Regions from separate parts of the Homo sapiens genome. Here region 1 is linked to region 2. The links come from fine-mapping of genetic effects on gene expression. Tissue or cell type: lung. Region 2 holds a variant in brackets; the other region holds the start of a gene. All regions are shown on one strand. Distances are from middle to middle.

Evidence for each region. PIP is the estimated chance that this variant, and not a neighbour inherited with it, causes the effect. A credible set is the group of variants that fine-mapping cannot tell apart.
Region 1: NHLH2 starts here. The variant in region 2 is the best candidate, but not a certain one, in a credible set for the expression of NHLH2 in lung (GTEx, PIP 0.53).

What each region holds. Positions count from the first base shown.
Region 1 is chr1:115,838,722-115,847,755 of GRCh38, forward strand. It overlaps NHLH2 (nescient helix-loop-helix 2), which reads right to left and starts at 2,405. Exons shown (of 3, transcript NM_005599.3): 1 at 2,227-2,405; 2 at 1,495-1,823.
Region 2 is chr1:115,794,365-115,806,189 of GRCh38, forward strand. No RefSeq gene overlaps it. Among named protein-coding and RNA genes, the nearest start is that of CASQ2, 32 kb to the left of the region's middle. The variant T/C (reference allele first, on the strand shown) is at 5,782.

The sequences.
Region 1 (9,034 bases), 43 kb after region 2:
TCCGGCCAAATGCCAACCGCGCTATTCCTCCTCCCTCCCTTCGTCCCCTTCCCGGACAAACGAGCGATTTCGAACAACGAATACATCTGGGTTTTCACGGGGGCGGGGAGACGCGGGGTGCACTTCTCGCCCCGAGGGCCTCCGGCGAAGCAACCCGGCAGCCGCGGCGCCCGAGGGCCTGGCGCTGGTCTGGGGCTGCGCCGGGGGCGCCTGGCTCTGGGGTGCGGCCGGTCAGGAATCCCCATCCTGGAGCGCAGGCGGAGAGCCAGTGGCTGGGGGCGGGAAGGCTTCTTGGACCCCTCGCGCTTCTCCGAAATCGTAAAGAAATGACTAAACAAACGTGGGGGAGCCTTTAAAAAGAAAATTGACTCCGATGCCCTCGCAGGCTCCCGGAGCACCATCTGTCACGCAGACAGCCACACACATAGGGGACCTAGGGACACGGCGACGTGGGATCAGACAATGCGCCCGGCAGTCTGGCGACCACCTTGCGGGAAAATGCCGGCAGCCGGGCCGCTGAGGGAGGAGAGGATGCAGAGGGAAGGGAAGAGAAGGGAAGGGCCCGGGGCGGGGCAGGCGGGGACTAGCGGGTGCAGCGCGTGTTGTCCCGGCGGGAGCTGCATCTCTGCCGGCAAAGTTCGGGCGCTCCCGGAACCGGAGCTCGGCAGGCTGCAGCTGTCCCCGGGTGGCCTGGCCAAGTCCGGGCATGTCGGTGCTTAGCCTTCCTCTAACTTAACTGTGCCCTCTTGGAAACGCCACCTGGCCAGGCTTCTCTGGGGCGCCTGGAGCACTGGCCCGGACTGTGCGCCTTCTGGGAGGGGGCCGCTCAGAACCGCTGGGCTTCCGGGTAATTCGGGCTTCGAGAAAGGGCCCGGCAGGAGGAGAAAGGCCCCTGCAGGGGCTGCACGCACCGCCCCTGGGCGTCGGGAGTGAGGACCAGGCTGAGAACTCGGGGCCCCGGCGTGGGCAGCCTCCACGACGCTCGGCACGGGAGAAATCCGCGTCGGCGACGTATAGGAGCGTTTGCTTCTAGAGAAACAAAAGCAAGGGGATGGGTGATCGGTTCCCAGCACCGCACTTGCAGAGGAGCGAATTGGGCCAAAACAGCTTTAATTTCCCTGCGAGGAAATCAGGTCCTCTACGGCAAAATAAAAACAAATGCTCCCAGAGAGCTGCATGTGACTCCCTACGGGCTTTTCTCGGGTACGTTTATGAGTAGAACAACTTGCACCTACACAGTCAGCTTGAAAGGGCAGAAATAAATAGACGAGTAATGGAAAATCACAATAAGCCACTAAATAGTTGTAGTTCTGGTAAAAAGTTCCTGGGTTGCCCTCAAAGCACATTAAATTCTCCTCTAGATCTTTAAAAATATTCATAAATAGTATGCCGTGTATGCGTTTTATCTCTTTATGGAATGAACTGCATCTATAGATACAGTATGAATAATCTAACTTATTTCAAGCTGAAAAAAATTATTTAAAGGAGTCTTACCTTGCAAAAGCCTTTTTGATAATCTGTTCTCCAATCTTTAGAGTTAAAATTCCAAGGAATAGCGAGGGGAGATTCCGGAAAATATTAAAAGCAGCAAATATTTATTACATTCAAAAATGAAAAAGCAGCTGTCATCTCGCTGGTGTCCGCAGCGAGGGACAATAATATCTCAGGATGTAGACGATATGAATGATTGTTCACTTAGTTGATAGATTTTTTAAAAAACGCTTTTTCCTTTTAATTGTTCTCAAACATTGCAAGAAATTCGTTGATGATTTTTTTAAACGATGTGTTGAAAAGTCTCGTGCCTTTTTTCCTCTTCTAGGTCTCTAAAAATAACAAAAGAGATGCAGAGATAAACACAATCACATCAAAGGGCTGATTCCTCCACTTTCTAATAGCGGAATAATCAATAAGAAAGATGGTTAAGATAAGATTCCGCTCCTATCGTATGCCTTTCTTTTCCTTAATACGGCTGAGCAGAAACTGGGAAGTGCAGGACAGAGATGTGATCTTGCTCAGAAGTGATTTTTTTTTTTTTTTTGAGATAAGGCTTTGTTCAGCTGATATCTCCCCAGTTCCCAGGAACACAATACTGTAACTAGGAGCTAAGGTTGCCTCTTCCTCTTCCCTCACTTACTTGTATGTTGTATAAATAGACACCTATTTTCCAGTTTCAAAGTCTTTCAAGGTTTGGCTATATCCCCCGTCCCCAGCCCCTCTTCTCTTTACCTTGTAGCAAAATATATATAGTCAGTGGCTTGGAGATGCTTGGAGAAAGGTTGGTGAAAAGTGAACGTCTCCTGGAGTAACAGTGACAAGGAAGCAGAGAAAGACGGGAAGAGGGTGGGAGAGCCAGAGCAAAGAGGCAGAGATGCGTGTGTGGCTTCTGGGCTCTCCTGGTACCAATTGATTCAGCCTGGAGATGGTGGAAGAGATAAAGGCTTAGGAAGGGGGATGGAATTTTTTTCCCCTAAATTGATATTTAATGGGAAATCCTATTGGACAGAAACCTGGACATGAGTCACTTAATTGGACTTGACATCTGTCACAGTGTGGGAGTTTTCACAGCCCAAATATTTTAGCAGATCAGATTCCCACTGAATCTGTGCCATAAAATATAACAATTGAAAAGCAGTTCATGATAGAAATCTTAGCCTCTAAACAGTATCTAGCCGTAGTCAGGCTATTTCTCTTTTCCAGATTATTGATGAAATATTTAAGTACAAATAAACAATATATTGACTATCAAAGAATTCCCCTGGCATATTACAAAGCCACCACTTTCCCTTAATATTTAGAAAAATATTTGTGTCCAGAACATGGAAATATATACTATATAAGATGCTGCAATAAAGTATTTAGACATGCAACAGCCAACATTTATTAGAGATCATTTACATTTTAAAAGATACTTCAGTAAGGTTTGATTAAGCATATTAACATTTTTGAGAAATGATCTGCTATGAGACTAACTTATCAATAGATGGTAAGAACCTTTCAATAGATTAAGCCATTGGTGGAACTAGAAAGAGAATCCACATATTCACGGACCACGACATGAGATAATTCTACTTTTCTGTATGTTTGTTTTTCTCTCCACCCACTCATTCATTCAAGCTGAAATATGACATGCTACATGTGTTGATTATTGCACTTCATTCTTGCCCATCTTAACATGCTAATATATTGTACTGCGTGGCAGTGCTTGTGCCAAGATGTAAACACAAATTACCAGTGTGTCCCAGTACATAATGCCTTTGCCTTACATGATCCCATGGCCCTGAATTTGTATACCTTATAATAAAAAATAAAATCTAGTTCAATTATTTTGCCACTTTATGAAGATACTCATAGTTAATATCAATAACATATTATTTGTGATTATTTTAGCTTGTTTTGATCATACAAGCTTAAAGAAATAAAAGAGCATTACAGCCTTACTCCCACCCCGCCAGTTCCTAGGGGAACATTTGTGGAGAGAGGAGTCCTCACTTGTCTTCCTTAATTTTGCCCTAAAAGCAGATTTTATCACCAGGGGAGGCACATTGAGCAGCCCACCCCTGGGAGTGACCCTCCGGGTTTTTCATGGCTTCCACAAGTACTATTTGCCTTTGCCCACATTTTTGCTCCTTTGAGAGATTCCTGGACCACAATGGGGCAGGGGTCGGGGAAAGGAGGGAGTGCCTCCAACAAATAAGGGCACCAACACTCCCCAGCCTTGCTTCTGCCTAACCCCAGCACAGAGGTATATTTTAGATATCCCCAGAACGTTAAAGTGAAGATGGAAGCCGGTCCCATACAGGTGGCAATGGAAATGGGTGAGTGGATAAACACCCCAAGGTGGTGACAATGAAGGGAGAAGGGAGGTTTTCTCACTCTAGTTAGGAACAGCCAATGCTAAGCATTCACACACAACCAGAAGTGTGCACACAGATGCACACCCACAGACACCTGTACCTCCTCCCCCTTCATCATACAAGCTGGCTGGCTCTATTAGACCACCACACATCCATACTGATGGATTGAAAAAAACTGGTGGGTCTAATCACCATAGCTCTAGAGTGGGCAGCTGCTACAGTGGGAAAGGACCAGCATCTCTGGTTCCCCTGGTGTTGGGGAGTCATGACAGGGTGTGCCTATCAGGGCAGGTCCAATTCTGCTATGGTGTGTGTGATACCAGACAAATTCCCTTTTATGTTCAGGCTTACTCATTCTATACCAGCAGCCAGCATACACAAAAATTAATGCTTACAGAAGTAAGCCTGTATAAACAGGTACACACTCAGATCCATACTTAGTGATGCCTAGCCACACTGTCATAGACACAGACATGGATTCACATTCACACACACACATTCTTTCTTCCATCAAAGCCTCCCCCTCCCCCACCCCTTTGCCTTTTCTAAGACCTCCCTGGCACAGATGGCCCCTCCTTCTGTGCTCCATAAGCACTCCTTTCATGTCTCCCTTAGAGACTACATATTGTGTACCGTGATTCTTGGTTCTTGGTTACCACACTGGTCTCTCTTCCTAGGCTATGATGCTTCCAGGGGAGGTCTGTAGCTTATATCCCCAGCACTAATGTCTGAGCTTGACACATTATAGGTACTCAGTTCATTTATGATGTGACTCTATGTACAGAGGTACCCCAGATATTTGTAACATAGAAACGCTTCCACTAAAGGACACCCATGGTTCAGTTCTATCAATTTTCTTTCCTGTAAAAATGAGAATAATAATATTGCACTTCTCATTTCACAGGCTCGCTATGAGACCCAATGTATTTGAAAATATTTGATGAAATAGTAAGCACCATACAAATTATGATATTATAGACTATAAGAGTAATATTAAATAATATTATTAAATGAATGGGGAGGTGATAAGTAGTGACTTAAAAAGTCCGGCTTTGTGGCTCTGTCATATGCTAGCTGTGTGAATTTAGTTGTAAGTTACTTAACCTTTTTGGACCTTAGTTTTCTAATCTGTAAAATGAGAATAATCAAAGCATGTTATGTAATGTTATGTCATGTTTTTTTCTGAAGGTGAACAAGATAATATATGTAAAGTGCTTAAACTAATGCCTAGAACTCATGTTCAGTAAGTGTTGGCTATCATTATTATTATTATTCAGTATAAATACATATTGAGGAACAGATATATATTGACATAGAAAAATAAACATATCCAGATATACTCACCCGTGTGTGTGTGTGTGTGTGTGTGTGTGTGTGTGTGTGTGTGTGTGTGTCTGTCCATAGCTCTGGTGGCCAAACTACAATGAGCATTTTCCATGTGTCAGACCTAGGTATAGTGACTTTGCTCATATTAACTTATTTAACCTTCACCACAAACCTGTGAGGTAGGTAGGTACTGTTGTCCCGATTTTGTGTATAAGAAAACTAGGACATGGAAAAGATGGTAATCTACTCAAGGTCACATAGCTAATAAATTATGGAGCTAAGATAGAGATTCAGGTGGTCTAAATTCAGAAACTGCACTCTCAGACACAAAGTACTACTGTTTCTGTCATTGTATCCTACACAGATATACTCACACAGAACTATTCACCAAAATGCATATGGCAAGGGAGAAATACACGTACACACAAAACTTAGATAAATGGCCACCTTTGCATTCAGGGGTGGTTAGTGAGTGATATGGTTTGGCTGTGTCCCCACCCAAATCTCAACTGGAATTGTACTTGCCATAATTCCCGGGTAGGAGGTAATTGAATGCTATTCTCATGAAAAGAGTAAGTTATCATGAGATCTGATGGTTTTATAGGGAGCTTACCCCTTTGCTCAGCTCTCATTCTTCTCTCTCCTGCTGCCTTGTAAAGAAGGACATGTTTGCTTCCCCTTCCATCATGATTATAAGTTTCCTGAGGCCTCCTTAGCCCTGAGGAACTGTGAGTCAATTAAACATTTTTCCTTTATAAATTACCCAGTCTCAGGTATGTTCTTATATCAGCATGAGAATGGACTAACACAGTGTCAGTGTAGTTTAAATACTTACTGCACATCTAGTGCTTTGCCAGATACTGTTGGACTACAAAGGCTTTGTAATTATTTGTTACTTTTATGAGACATCTGTTTCCAACCTATTTTTTAAAATTTTGTACCCCATAGATAAAAATTTAGGGCATACATACTGAGTATATGTATATTTATATGTATATACCCAATTATAACTACATAATATACTAGTACAGTAGTACATGTATAAGCTTTGTACATGTACTACTGTACTAGTATATTATATAATTATGATATACAAAAGATAAGCAAAGATATGATAAAAATATTTATTTTAAAATTTGTAAGTATTTATCAATAGATACATTTATAAATTTAAATATTCATATTTATTATTAAATATATGATAAACTTAAAAATAATATTAATAAACTAATTAATTTTATTTATTAACAGCACAAAAACCAATTAACAGCATAAGGTTTTATTGATCATGTATAACTTCTGAGAGCAATAAGCTTAATTTTGTTAAACTCATTGTTTAACCCTTTGAGATAATGATTTGATCATCTGGTTTTAAGATCAATTTATTTAGAATCTGTTTTTTGGCTGATATAGCAGAAAGAGATGTAATACAAAAATTCAGATGGTATCACAAAATATGATAAGCATGTGAAGTGATGGATATGTAAATTAGCTTGATTTACTCATTCCACAGTGTAAACATATATCAACACATCACATTGTACATCATAAATGTATACCATTTTTATTTGTCAATTTAAAAAAAAATAAGAAAAAGTGGAAACATCCCAAAGGTCCATCAACTGATGGATGGATAAACAGAATGTGATATAACCATACAATAGACTACTATTCGGCAAGAAAAGAAACAAAGTACTAATACATGTGACAACATGGATGAACCTCAAAAACATTATGCTGAGTGAAAGAAGCCAGACACAAAGACCACATATTGCGTGACTCCATTCATATGGAAAGGTACAGAATGAGCAAATCTATAGAAACAGAGGTAGATTAATGGCTGTGCAGGGATAAGATCGGGTAAAGAAAGGTACCAGGGAGTGATTGCTAATCAGCAGAGTTTCATCTTGGGATGATGGAAATATTCTAAAATTAGATTTTGGTGATGATTTCATGACTCTGTAAATATACTAAAAAACATTGAGCTGTGTGCCTTAACTATGGTATGTTAAGTATATCTCAATAAAGCTATTAGAAAATTCAGAAGACATAATGTGTGATATTTATGTCACTGTAGTGGGTAAAGGGCGTGATGTCTTTTCTCACCCATCATAAGGGTCACAGCTGACACTCCTTTAACAAAAGACAGGTTAACATGAAAAGCATAACATATTTATCTAATCAGAGTTTTACATGACACAGGAGTCTTCAGAATGAAGACCCAAAGATCCAAAGGAAAACTGTCCATTTTTATGCCTAGATTTGATGCAGAGTGGATAGCCGTGCAGAAATGCGACTGGACAAAAAGGGAATGATCTTACAGCAACAGACTGAATGAGGAAACCCAGGAAAGCCTGCCTGTTAAGATTCTACTTGGTCTCTCTGTGTGGCATTCCTTTTTCCAGGGATAGTGCAAGACCCCTTTTAGAATGAGGGTCTTATAATCTACTTGCAGACAGAGTAGGTCAGAGAATTTCTGTATGGTCAGCTCTTACACAGAAAAATGGGAGAATGTTAGAATACTATTTCTAGGTTTTATGGCTGGCTTTGGAGAGAGGGGTTCTAGTTTCTATGATCCACCTTGGGGAAGAGAAATTCTAGTTTCTATGGCTTGCCCTTGGGGGAGAAAAGGGAGCAAGGAGAAAGGAGGGCATGAGAAGTTCAGAGAGAGACTTTGCTTTTAAGGGATTTTCAATCACCTTTTGTTCAAAGTACTCAGCATGCCAAAGTGCCATACTTTGAGTTATCATTTTCTGAATCCCAACAATTCCTATTTTCACTGTACTTCTCTATTTATTATTTTATCTAGTATATATTTTTATTTATTGTTATTGATTATATCATAAATGGTGAGGGTTTTTATCATTTTTTATTTGTTTGCTTTCTTTAAAGGAATAGAAGAGACTACCACCAGTTGTAGCAGTACTTTTGAAAACTTACCATCTATGTGACCCGAACCGTGGTAGGAGTGAGCACAGTCAGAGGTTAAAGATAGACAATAGTATCCCCTAGTTTGCTCTGTACTTATCTATGGTCCACTTGTGCTGGTGAGCTGATATGTGTGGTGGATAACCATTCCCAATTTTTTAAAATTAAAGTAAAATTTCCAATTTATTTTATATAAGCCAATATTATCCCATTAGTAATAATTACAGGGGAAAAAACAGAAACTCTTTTGTGACAAAAGTATTTTAGCATCTATATAAACACCATAAGTGATAGGACATAATTTGAGAGCTATTTATTTTCACTAAACATATATTAATAAAACAATGTTTCCAATCCCTCAACCCATTCAGACATATACACATTGTTGTGGGAGATCATTTTTCTTATGAAAGAATAAAATGTGTGCTATAAGAAAAAAAATCAAAAGTCTAACAGAAGTTAATCACTGATTGTGTTAACTAAATTATTATTCTCATTTTTCTTACTTATCTATGAAATATTCCAAAGTTTTATTGAAATTTGGACAGTAAGTCTCTTTCTAATGTGAATTAGTTTTTCTTTTAACAATGGGTTTAAAATCCATAAAACTCTTGATTTGGAAAAATTTTTAACAGCTTAGATATTTATGCTTCCAAGTGTTTCAAGTGTTCAGATATAACAGATTTTAATATATGTCACATTTTCATTATTTGGGGTAGCAAAAATCACATAACAATGGAAAAATTTCTAAATTAAATCTCTTCAAAATGCCTTCTCCATTGCACAATGTTTTTAAAAGTTACCATTTAATTCATTTAAAAATAGTACTTAAAGAGACACGTTGCGTGTGCATTCATTTTTTTAATCTGCTGGTAGCATACCATTGACATTGTCATAAAAAATAACTTTGGAACACTTATCTTAAA
Region 2 (11,825 bases):
CAGTGTATGAGACACTGTATAAGCATTTGATATATATTTACCTCCCTTGGCCCTGACAACTATGCTAGGCAGCTGATATTATTTTTATCATTCCCATTTGGTAGGTGAAGAAAGTGCCTAGTCGTGGGCCTTTGGTGAGGAATACAATTTGAAGTCAGTCAATCTGATTTCAGGGACAATGCCATAATCTTTATGTTCTTTGAGAGATAATCAGAATCCTAAACTAAAGAATGCTTAAGATTTCCTAATTTCTACAGGCAGTGGGGAGCCACAGAGGATTGCTGAGCATAGGGGAGATTTAATAAGTTGATGATGAACTCTCTCTGTTGAGCAGATGAGGAAGATAGAAGAAATACTTGCAGAAGTTTCAGGGGTAGCACTTCAAACAATGAGACCATTGGGAAACTTCAGTCCTAGGGAGGCTAGGCATGTGGGGAGGGTTCTGCTGAAGAAAGGCTTTGTGCTAATGTGTGTCCATGGAGCCAACTGCGTGGAGTGACAGGCTCTGAGGATGGAGCCTGCCTGTGCATATCAAAGAATGGCCTTCCTATGTCTCCATGGCACAGACCCTGGTCACATACCGGTCTTTTTAGCCTTCCATATCCCTTAAATCACCCCTCAGCAGGAGCACCTGCAATTATGAAGTCAAATATTCTAACCTGAATTCCTTTTCTATTCGTATGACCAAATTCAGCAATCTAAGGACAATCTCATAAATGTTAGGTGGAAAAGAGCTTTACCTTGCCAGTCCAAGTACCTAAAATGATGTATGTGTTCCCCAACAAGCAGAGGCGAAACCTGCTTGTATTAATGACCTCTGCCAGGGCATTTTCAGAATTCCTGCAGCATGAGATGCCTTTCACCCACCACACTGGAGTTACTTCCCTCGGATTCACCACTTCATGGCTTTCCAGTCTGTATTGTCTTTGTTCTTCTCTGATCATCTTTCCAAACTAACCTCAGAATTATGTTCCTGCTTTTCCTGGGGTCTGCAAATCCTCTGTAATGAGCAGCCATCTGCAGATTCATTTTTATGCAGTTTCCCTTCCCCCTTCAGACTGGTAATAAAAATATTAAACAGGACTAAACCCAGGGCTGACCCCTGCTGCACCCTGCTAGACAGCCCCCCTTGGGATTGGCTGCCTTTTATCATTGGCCTTTTTTTCTTGCAATGTTTTGTCCAATTTACAGTCACCTCCCCCTGTCCTCAGCCTAGTCAATTAGAGCCGAATGTGAGAGCAAAAATGTTGAGAGATATCCCAAGCTTTTCCAGTTAAAGTCCAAATCTTTGTCTGTTTCTATATATCAGGAAACAATTTTGGGTAAAAACTGAATAACACCACATTAAATATCAACATATTTTTATGTTAACCATAATCTGTACTGTTGACTTAATATTTTATTTTCAACAAGTTCTTTGGTATCCTGTCTTCATGAGTTAACGTTTGCTAATAAAAAGTAAAAATTTCACTCAGTTTCTCTTTCTGACTGTAAACTCAGACTTGGGGCATTTTGTACTTCAGTTTCTTCAGATGTAAATAAAATAAACTAATTTGTGTTTACAACAAACTCCAAGAAATGTTTGATAGGACTACAAAGGATTGTTTATCCTTTAGAAATGCTTTGTCTTTTGACACAATTATTTCCCCCCATTTGGGGATCTTACCAAGAAAGATGCTGGGTAAATCTCTTTCGTTTTTATTGTGTGTATTCCACACATCTAGAAGTCCTGGAAGACGAAGAGGAGCATATCACTCCGCTGGGACTGCTTTCTGAATGCATGGATGTGCTATGAAATATAAATGTATCTCTTCCTGGACAGAGTTTTCTTTTTTCCCTTGCTCTCCTGGGACGCAGGGCTCATGGCGTCAAAAGCTCAGGTGCATCTAGCCATAAGAAGGAGCCTTTTCAGCTCTCTTTATCTCTGCCTCAGTACCCTCATCATAGTAATGAGGATGGACAGAGATTTAAAAGCAAATATGATCTAACAAATAGGCCAGACCCCTTTCTAATCCAGGTTCAGAACAAAAGATAGCACTTCCTGGAATTAACTCCTCGGGAGAGAAACACTCTCATCTAGTTGTGGAAAATCTTTTCCTTTCTCTCAAAATATTCAAAAAGTCCTATACTTTTAAAAGGACCATAAAGAGAGAGCCTTCAATATTTGGTCTATAGTTTAAAATTTTGTGTGACTTTTTCTTGGTCAGGAATGCTTTAACAAACAAGATCATCCAAACTAGGAACTTTAATAATAATTTTTATATTACAACTGCACAAAAATGCTTGAAATAAGAGAAACCCCACCATTCTTCATATATTTTGACTCTATTGTATACAGAAAAGATATAGTAAAAATAAAAAGGATTGTGTAGTTCACAGAACACTCAAGATATCACTCTCCATGATGAATGAATTTCTGAAAATAATATATATTAAATATACCATATATGACAGATTGACTTATTCTATACCCATAATATTTGTGTTGTATATTATTCAGGTGCTATTTTCATAAATGTATGTCTAAAAACATCTATAAATGTGACTTCACTGGTTAGCTGTCTCGTTGATACGGTGATGTGGGTCTTCAGCCTGGCTTTCTTTGTATCTCGGTACATCAGGTCTCAATGGCAATGGAGTGGGAGCTGTCCCGTTTCTGAGTCCCTGAAGCCCAGGTTGTGTTTGTGTATGGGGAGAGTTAATGAGAACAGAATGGCTTTCTTCCCCTAGCTTCCCCAATCCCATCTGTTCAAACAAAAGGCTGAAAGGGAAAGAGAACTGAGACCCTGCTGGTCAAGGGGGGAGGAATAATAACACATATCCTTGGGCAACATTTCAGCACATGCAACCCTTTTATACTGTGCTTAAGCTTTTATTCAGACAAAAGGAAGTCGGGCCAATGTAGGTTCCATTTAAAACTACAATTAAAAAAAAATACGTTAGGCCCAAAGGTCTTTTTTTTTTTTTTAAATAACTACATTTGTAAGTCTAGATTGAAAAATGAGAACTATGAAAGGAAAGGAAAAAAGCAATTTGTACTGAAATCTGCTGAGTAATCCACCTGTGTAGACAGTTGTAGAAGACCAATTTCACCTACTTTGAATGAAGTTGAAGGACAAGTAATGAGCATTATAATAAAAGGAGTTAAAAAAAAAAAGGCACTTCCTTAACTTCCTAAGAAGGGTCCATGAAAATATTGTGATTTCCAGTTGAGGACAAGAAAACCAGTTGCCTTCGGTTCATCAGGTTAGCGGCTTGCCCGCAGAAGCATGGCAAGCAACTCTGGAAGGTCAGAGCAACATTCCCTGGAGCAGTTCATTGAGGCTGACTGGCTCTTAGAGACGACTGCTTAAATCCCAATGGGCCACCCTCAAGGGATTATTTCACAAGATTTGCCAATGCCCTGATACATGCTGCTGTTCATTAAGGCAGGAGAAGAAAAGATTTCCTGGGTATTTACTCTACAATTAAAGCCAGAGCTATTGGGCCATCTTACCATCTATGGGAAGGTGAATTTGCAATCAGTTTTCTTTTATCTGTATTATAAACCATATATTTTAAGTCAGTCACCGCAATAGCTGCATTACCATCACATACATACAGACTTACCATTTTTTTAAAAGTGTATAAAATAAATTCTACCCTCTCCTCTTAACTTTGATGCTATCACTTCTGTAAAAAGGAAAATAAGAAAGGATGAAGATATTCACAAACTGAGATTGCCAGGAGTTAAGATGTTTAGGTCACTATATATTTGGAAAAATAAAAAAATCCACATCTTCAGGATATTTCCCAAATGACAAAAAAAGAGAAAGGAAGGGGAAAATAAAAAGTAAATGTGAGCATTAAGAAATGTCATCTTAGGACCTCCTGGGAATTGTGAAAGCCTGAGAAAATTTTATAAGGAAATGCAATTAGAACACCTAGGACACGCTGAGGCACAAAGTCTGGCTCCTTCCATAGAAGGGCCACCAGCTACTTAAGAAAGGCAAACCAAACCTGGAATCTAAGGGAAAAGAAATTTCCTGAATGATGGGGGTGGCCTCTGAAGGATAAGTAAGCTTGTGTAAAGTATGAGTTTAGCAAATCTTGATTATCTCGGTGAACATTTTCTCATAAATGTTCATTTTTATTGTGTCATCAACATACAATTGTGCATGCAAATGGAAGCAAAAGCAGGGAAAAGACAGTCCAAAGTGGTGATTGAGCAAAACCATATTATCTGGCTTTCACCTGCATCATATTATTCTTTTTTTACAAAGCGTTTTCTTTCCTTATTATTTATTTTTGCTTGGGCTAATTTTAAAATGAGTTTTTATTCCCTTGGTACAACAGTCAGTGTTGGCCCGGAATGAAAAACACACCCCTGATAATCCACAGAGAATGTAATCCACAACATTAATAACTGGCAGCTGAAAGCATTTGCCTATTCCATTTTCCTCCTTTATTCCTAAAGGAAAACAGGAATATAAATATGCCTACTTTATAGAAGACCTGAGTTCTTTAAAGGGTCAGCTACAAAAAAAATTTTTATTAACAAAATTAGATTTTGCCATGACTGTCCATCTCAAAACTAAAGTTGTATACCATGTAAAAAGTTTGCTTTTGGAGATAATAGGAGCCATATTTACAAAACAATATGACTCTAAATGAAACTGCCTTTGCAAAATTCTGACAGTGAGAGCAATCTGATGTAGTTGACTCCATCTTGCTTCTAACCTCCGAGCTGTTCTTGGTCATTACTGGGCGTAGGCCAAACTAACTTTGGGAGAAATATAGTTTATAGTTTAATCTTACAGCAAGGATGATAATAGCCCTTCCCAAAACTAAACTGCCTTTGTAAAACTAATGAAAGCTTACAAGGTTAGGATTATGAGGGGCCTGATTTCTGCTAAGACGTAGGCGTAGTTAAATGACAACTAGCCATTGTTCCAGAGGTCACAAGAATTGTAACTTCCCCAATTACTCCTGTAAATAATATCACTGTTGTAGAACCTATGATTGGCCTTTTGAGATGTTTTTCAGACTTTTGCATTGCTAATGAGGGCTGACCCTACCCAGACCCCCAACTCGTGTCTCAACTGGTCCTTTGGCTCCCACCCAGAGACCAACTCAGCACATCAAGACCTTTTTCCACACCCCTATGATTTCATACCCAATCAAGCAACATTCCTCATCCCCTAGTCTCTTGCCCACCAAACTATCCTTTAAAACCCCTAATGTCTTAGTTTTTAGGGAGACTAATTTGAGTGATAAATTCAGTTCCTCCTCATGGGCTGGCTTCACATCAGTTAAACTCTTTCTCTACTCCAATGCTGTGGTCTCAGAGAATTGATTTTGCCTGTGCAGTGGGCAGGAAGAACCCACTGGAAAAATCACATAAAGATATAGTACATATAAGGTTGAAAAAATGATCAACGCTAACTATTGGATGATCTCCATTGGACGATTTTCACTATGCTGTCCACAGTAGCCACAAGAGACAAACATGCCATGGTTGAGACAGACTCCTTAGGTATGACAAGGACTCCCCCAACCTGTGCCCCTAGCACTGCAGTTTCAGGCTGCTTTAAAAAAAAAAATTTGTTCTGTAGTTTTCGCTGCCATTTCATATGAGGTCATTATACAAGTAAATGGGACCTCTTCTGTCGGTTATCATTGGTGAGGTATATATACATTTTAAAGAGGCAATGTATTCTTCACATTTGACTTAAATTTAGACTTGTCAATTTATTCTATAACCATTCATTGTGAGACTTGAATTTAGATGTATCAATTTAT[T/C]ATATGACCATTAATTGTGAGACACTAAATAAAGGCTGTAATGGATTAAAAAATGCTTTGTCCAGGTACATGTGAGGGAGTGGAGAATATGGTCTGCCAGGTTGGGGCTTGGATATTTATCCAGAGGGTGATGAGGAGGTACTAGAGGTGGAAAACAGAGAAGGTGTGAGCAGATCACTGAGAAACAAGCATACCTCAGATATTGCAGTTTCAGCTACAGATCATTGCAATAAAGTGAATATCACAATAAAGCAAGTCACACAAATTTTCTGGTTTCCCAGTGCATATAAAATTATATTTACATTATACTGAAGTCTATTAAGTGTGCAATAGCATTCTGTCTAGAAAACAGCATACATGCCTTATTTTAAAAGTACTTTATTGCTAAAAAAGTGTTAACAATCATCTGAGCCTTCAGAGAGCCATAATTGTTTTGCTGGTGGAGAGTCTTGCCTCAGTGTTGATGGCTGCTGACTGATCAGTGTGGTGGTTGCTGAAGGTTGGAGTGGCTGTAGCAATAGATTGCATCTTCTTCCAATGCAAGGCTATTTCATCTACTTTGAAAATGTGTTGTTTAGTGTAGCTGCCTACACTATTATTATTAACTATTATGAATATCAGCAATAAGGCTGTTTCACTTTCTTATCATTCATATTTTCTTTTAATTTCCTTCAAGAATTTCAAGAACTGTTCCTTCAAGAACATTTTCTTTGCATTTGCAACTTGGTTAACTATTAGGTGCAAGAGCCCTAGCTTGTGGCCTGTCTCAGCTTTCAACATGCCTTCTTCACTAAGTTTAATCATTTCTAGCTTTCAATTTAGAGAGCTGTGTGACTCTTCCATTCATTTGAACACTTAGAGGCCATTTTAGAGCTATTAACTAGCCTAATTTCAATATTGTTGTGTCTCAGGAAATAGGGAGACGTGAGGAGACAGAAAAAGACATGGAATGGTTAGTTGGTGGAGCAGTCAGATCACACAACATTTATCAATTAAGTTTACTTTCTTATATGGGTATGGTTTATGGCATCCCAAAACAATTACAATAGCAACATCAAAGATCACCAATCACAGATCACTATAACCAATGTAATAATAATGAAAAGTTTAAAATATTGTGAGAATTACCAAAATGTGACACAGACATCAAGTGAGCATATGATATTGGAAAAATGGAGCTGATAGATTTGCTTGACACAGGTTGCCACAAACCTTCAATTTGCACAAAAAAAAAAAAAAGACTGTAAAGTGCAAAAAAGCAAGGCACAAATAAGTGAGGTATGCCTGTATTTGCAATTACAGTTGACCGTTGAACAACAGGAGTTTGAACTGCACAGGTCCACTTATACTTAGATTTTCTTCTACCTCTGCCACCTCTGAGACAACAAGACCAACCCCCCTTTTCCTCCTCTTCCTCAGCATGCTCAAAATAAAGACAGCAAGGATGAAGATCTTTATGATGATCTACTTCTACTTAATGAATAGTAAATATGTTTTCTCTTCCTTATGATTTTCTTAATAATATTTTATTCTCTCTAGCTTACTTTAAGAATACAGTATATAATACCTATAACATGTAAAATATGTTTAACTGACTGCTTGTTATTAGTAAGGCTATGGTCAACAGTAGGCTATTAATACTTCAGTTTTGAGGTAGTCAAAGTTATACGCAAATTTTCAACTGTGCAGGATAGGGGGGCGGGGGGATGGGGAGATGTTTTCCCTAACCCCTGGGTTGTTCTAGAATCAACTGTATATTCTTTAGTTTAACCAAATTCTTTCTCACTAAATGAATTAGTGGCATTGAGAGTTTCCTGCAAAGACATAGCAGACTAAAACAAACAACAGAATGGCAGAGCCAACATTCTACTCTTAGCCTGAGTTGTTTGTCAGCCATGTTATGAGATTAAAGCAAAGATGATATAATAAACTCTGAAAAAAGTCAGCCAAAAAAATTAAAAATTAACAAGAGTTTTTGAAATACAGCTTTGTATCATTAACCACAGGGTATGATTTATATGGTGTGTATTATGTTTTCATGAAGTGAGGTATCTTTTTGGCTACATCTGCCATGAAAATCTAGTGGATAAATAAACTAGGCTTAGAATCACAACTTTGAATTACTACATTGTAAAACATTAAACTAAATTTGATTTTTAAAAATAAAGTGTATCCAACTACATTACTCTCACTAAAAATATTATTGTGAATTATAATTATAAAAGAGTACAAAAAGTTTTCGTATCATTAATAAAAAATAATTTTAGAAATGTTAATTTCATCTTTCTTATTTTTTTCCAGTTACTGTGCTACGGAACAATTCATCCCAAAACTTACTGGCTTAGAACAGCAACAATATTGATTTTACTCACTATTTTGCAAGTTGGGGAAAGCTTTCAGAGATAGCTTGTCTCTCCTCCACATGGTGTCATTTTGGTTGGCTTGAAGGCTGGGAGCTAATGCTAACTGTCAGCTGCTTTCCATGTGGGCCGTCTTCTCCTATGTTGGCTCAGGGCTCCCAAGGCATGTGTCCCAAGAGAAAAAGAGCTAGGCAGAAGCATTAACTTCTTTTATGACCTAGTCTAGTTAGCCAGCACAGTTATAAAGTTCTGCCAGGTTCAAGGGGAAGGAACATAGCCTTTCAGTCAAGTAGTGTCAATGTCACACTGCAAGATGAAAAGGTAGGAACAGATTATGTTGATATGGCCATCTTTGAAAAATGCAATCTTACAAAATTATCATTTTTATTATCATACAACATTTTGTGTTTTACACAACATATCAGTACATCTTCATATTTTATACATAACTAAATATGTATATATTTATAACATTGTCAGAATGCTTTATAAATTGGAGTGCATAATCAAAATTATTTGAAAACTTTTCTCATTTAGGAAACTGAAAGTAAAATAAAATGTATCTTTGCATGGCATAGGAGATACTAAACATATTTTTTCATCCTTTCTCATTGGCCTTCAGACTAATGGGGGGTCAGTACCTTGTAAAATAGTGTTTCACTAGGACTCTTTGCAGTAATTAATCTCCCTTTCCCCTATATTCTAATAGCAAATTATGCTTTTGGTACCACATTTCTCACATTGGGTTTTGCATTCAAGTTAAGTACATATGGTATGTAAGACAAAGTCTTATTCAGCTCTGTGGGCTCAACAGTTTGTAGAATGCTTTTTACATAGTAGATGCCCCCCAAAATACTGAATTGAATGGACTAGCTAAAGTTTTAGGATCTTTACTCCAGCAGTGGAAGTTGGTGGTGGAAGAGCTGATTTACTTAGAAGAAGAAAAGAAGGGAATATGCAATGGTAGTCTATTTTCCAGACCACAGCTCTCCCTAGCATGTACTATACATCGTCTGAACCAACTCTGAGGGCCATAATAAGTAAGTGGGTAGAGGAAGATGAGTAGGTCCTTAATATAAAGGATTGTAAATATCTACTGCCCTCCGTTGTCAAAGATGGCAATGTTTCTGATCCCATGATCATGGTGTAGCAGAAATAGCTCCAGATTGGCAGCCATGACATTTGTCATGGGGTAACCTTTTGGCAGTTAACTTTTGGTTTCTCCATCTGTGAAGGAGTGGATTTGTATTAACAAATTCTTAGGTGCCCCACAGCTTGAAAATATTCTGATTCTCAAAACCCCTGAGATGCGGTTCTATATGAGTAGTTATGAAGGTGAAGCAAGGTTGGTGATCCCAACTTGTGATCCGAATATGGCACTGTCTTATGATTTAAAGAAAACCATTGAAAACATAGATTATTATTCTTATATACCCAATGCCTAGAATAGTACCTAGCTCAAGATAAATGTTCAGAATATTTATTGAATGTGATATAATACAGAGTGTAGTTGATTTTTGCCCATGGTTCCTGGCTCAAAATTTCTTGGAATTTTCTGAATAATAGGAGTGTCTTTTGTTTTCATAAGAGCCCCTTTTGATCATACCTCAGTTTATGCTAATGAGGCAACTCATGGTAAAACCTTAGTTTTAAGGGAGAGGCTGACCATGACAGAAACACCGAGATGTAATGAGAATGTTGGAATTTTCAGCCTCACCTCCTCAGCTCCAAAGAGGGCAAAGGAGCTAGAGATTGAGTTCAATCACTTGGCCAATCATTTAATCAATGATACCTATGTAATGAGACCCTAGATAAATACTCTGAACACCATAGTTCAGGGGAGCTTCCTTGTTGGTGAAGAGGTTGATATGCTAGGAGGCTGACACACCCAGAGAGGGCAAAGAAGCTCCAAGCCTTTCTCCCAGACCTTGCTTTTCTCTTCCATTGGGGTGTTCTCCGATTGTGGCTTTTATAATAAAACCGTAATTTTAGTGTGCTTTCAGTAAATTCTGTGAGTCATTTTAGTAAATGACTAGAATGTGGTCATGGGAACTCCTAAATTTGTAGCCAACTCAGATAGAATTGCAGATATCCAAGGACACTACTTTCAGCTGACATCTGAAGTAAGGGCAGTCTTATTGGGGACCTTGCCCTCTAACTTGTGGTATCTAATGTTAACTTCGAGTAGTTAGTGTCAAAAGCAAATAACTTTGCCCTTAACTTGTAGAGTCTGCCCTAACTGTGGGTAGTTAGTGTCAAAATTGAATTGAATTCTAAGATATCCACTTGGTGTTGGAGAATTGAGGTTAGAAAGTAGCAAATCATAATAAATCACATTAATGAGTACTCATTCTATGCCAGGTACTGTTCTGGATGCTTGATATGATCACCTCATCTAATCCTCACAAGAAAACAATGAAGTAGATATCATTATCATCCCCATTTTACATGTAGGAAACTGAGGCATAGAGGGAGTAATTTCAGTGTTATACAGCTGACAAAACTGGATTTAAACCTGTTTCCTAAACCACTACCCACACAGAGTCATACTACTCAGCCCTGTCTTCTTGATCCTCAGGCAGCTGAAGCAACACCAAAAAAGTCAGACTTGAAGATTCTGGGCATACTGATGGCAAATGTTCAGAAACATGGAAGAGATTGCTTCTGAGACACTTCATAAAACAGGCTAGGATGTGGTTGCCAGTTCCCCAAGAATTGAAATATGCCACATGCCTCACCTCCACTCAGGTATTAAGTGTGAAACACCTCAGACCCTATTAATCAGACCCATCACCAGAATCAATATTCGTTAAACAGCCATGTGCATGAACAAAAGCTAATCACAAAGAAGACATAGATGCTACTCCCACGTTGGTTCTGCCCAAAAGGAGAGATAACACTAATGGAGACAAACCTTCCTTCCTGTCTTGAGAAGAGGGAGGGTGGAAAAAAGGCCCACTTATCTGAATGGATTTGGAGCACTACACAGCTGCCCCTATGCCCTCCTCATATCTCTTCATATGTAAAGTATTTTCTATTTGGAGGACAGAGCAAGACTAGATTAACGGCAGGTCTGATGACCCCTATCTTTAAAGGGCCTTAACCTCTCATAAAAATACTTAATAGAGTTCTTTCCCTTTAATTGCATGCCACAATCTTTGGGGGCCCTTCTATCTCTATGGATGCTCTGGGCACTAGCCTCCCTTTGTAATGTGGTTCTGCCTGAGTGTGGAATCAGCTGATGAGGCCAGGGGTCCCAAGGCAATACACCATCTGGCCAAGGTCATGGGTGGCAGATTATCAATTAGGAAGCATGGCGGGGAGGATGTTGTGTGGCTGGGGGTGGATCAGCCATTAGTAAGGGAACCAGTGTAGGTGTTGCAGCAGATTAATACACAAATCTTTGCTCTCAAGGGATCCTGCATGAAATCTTAGATTTGGTCACTAAGAGCTTTCAGAGGTAGAAAATGGAGCAACTGCATTAAAACATGAGCATGCACTTAGAGCAGTGTTTCTCAAACTTTAATGTGCATGTGAATCACCTAGAGATCTTGTTAAAATGGCTTTGGATTCAGTGGGTCTGAGGTGGGCCTGAGATTTTGCATTTATAATAACTCAGGAGATGCCAGTGCTGCTGGGCCATGAACCACTCTTAGATGCAAAGGCTTAGAACACATCCCACCT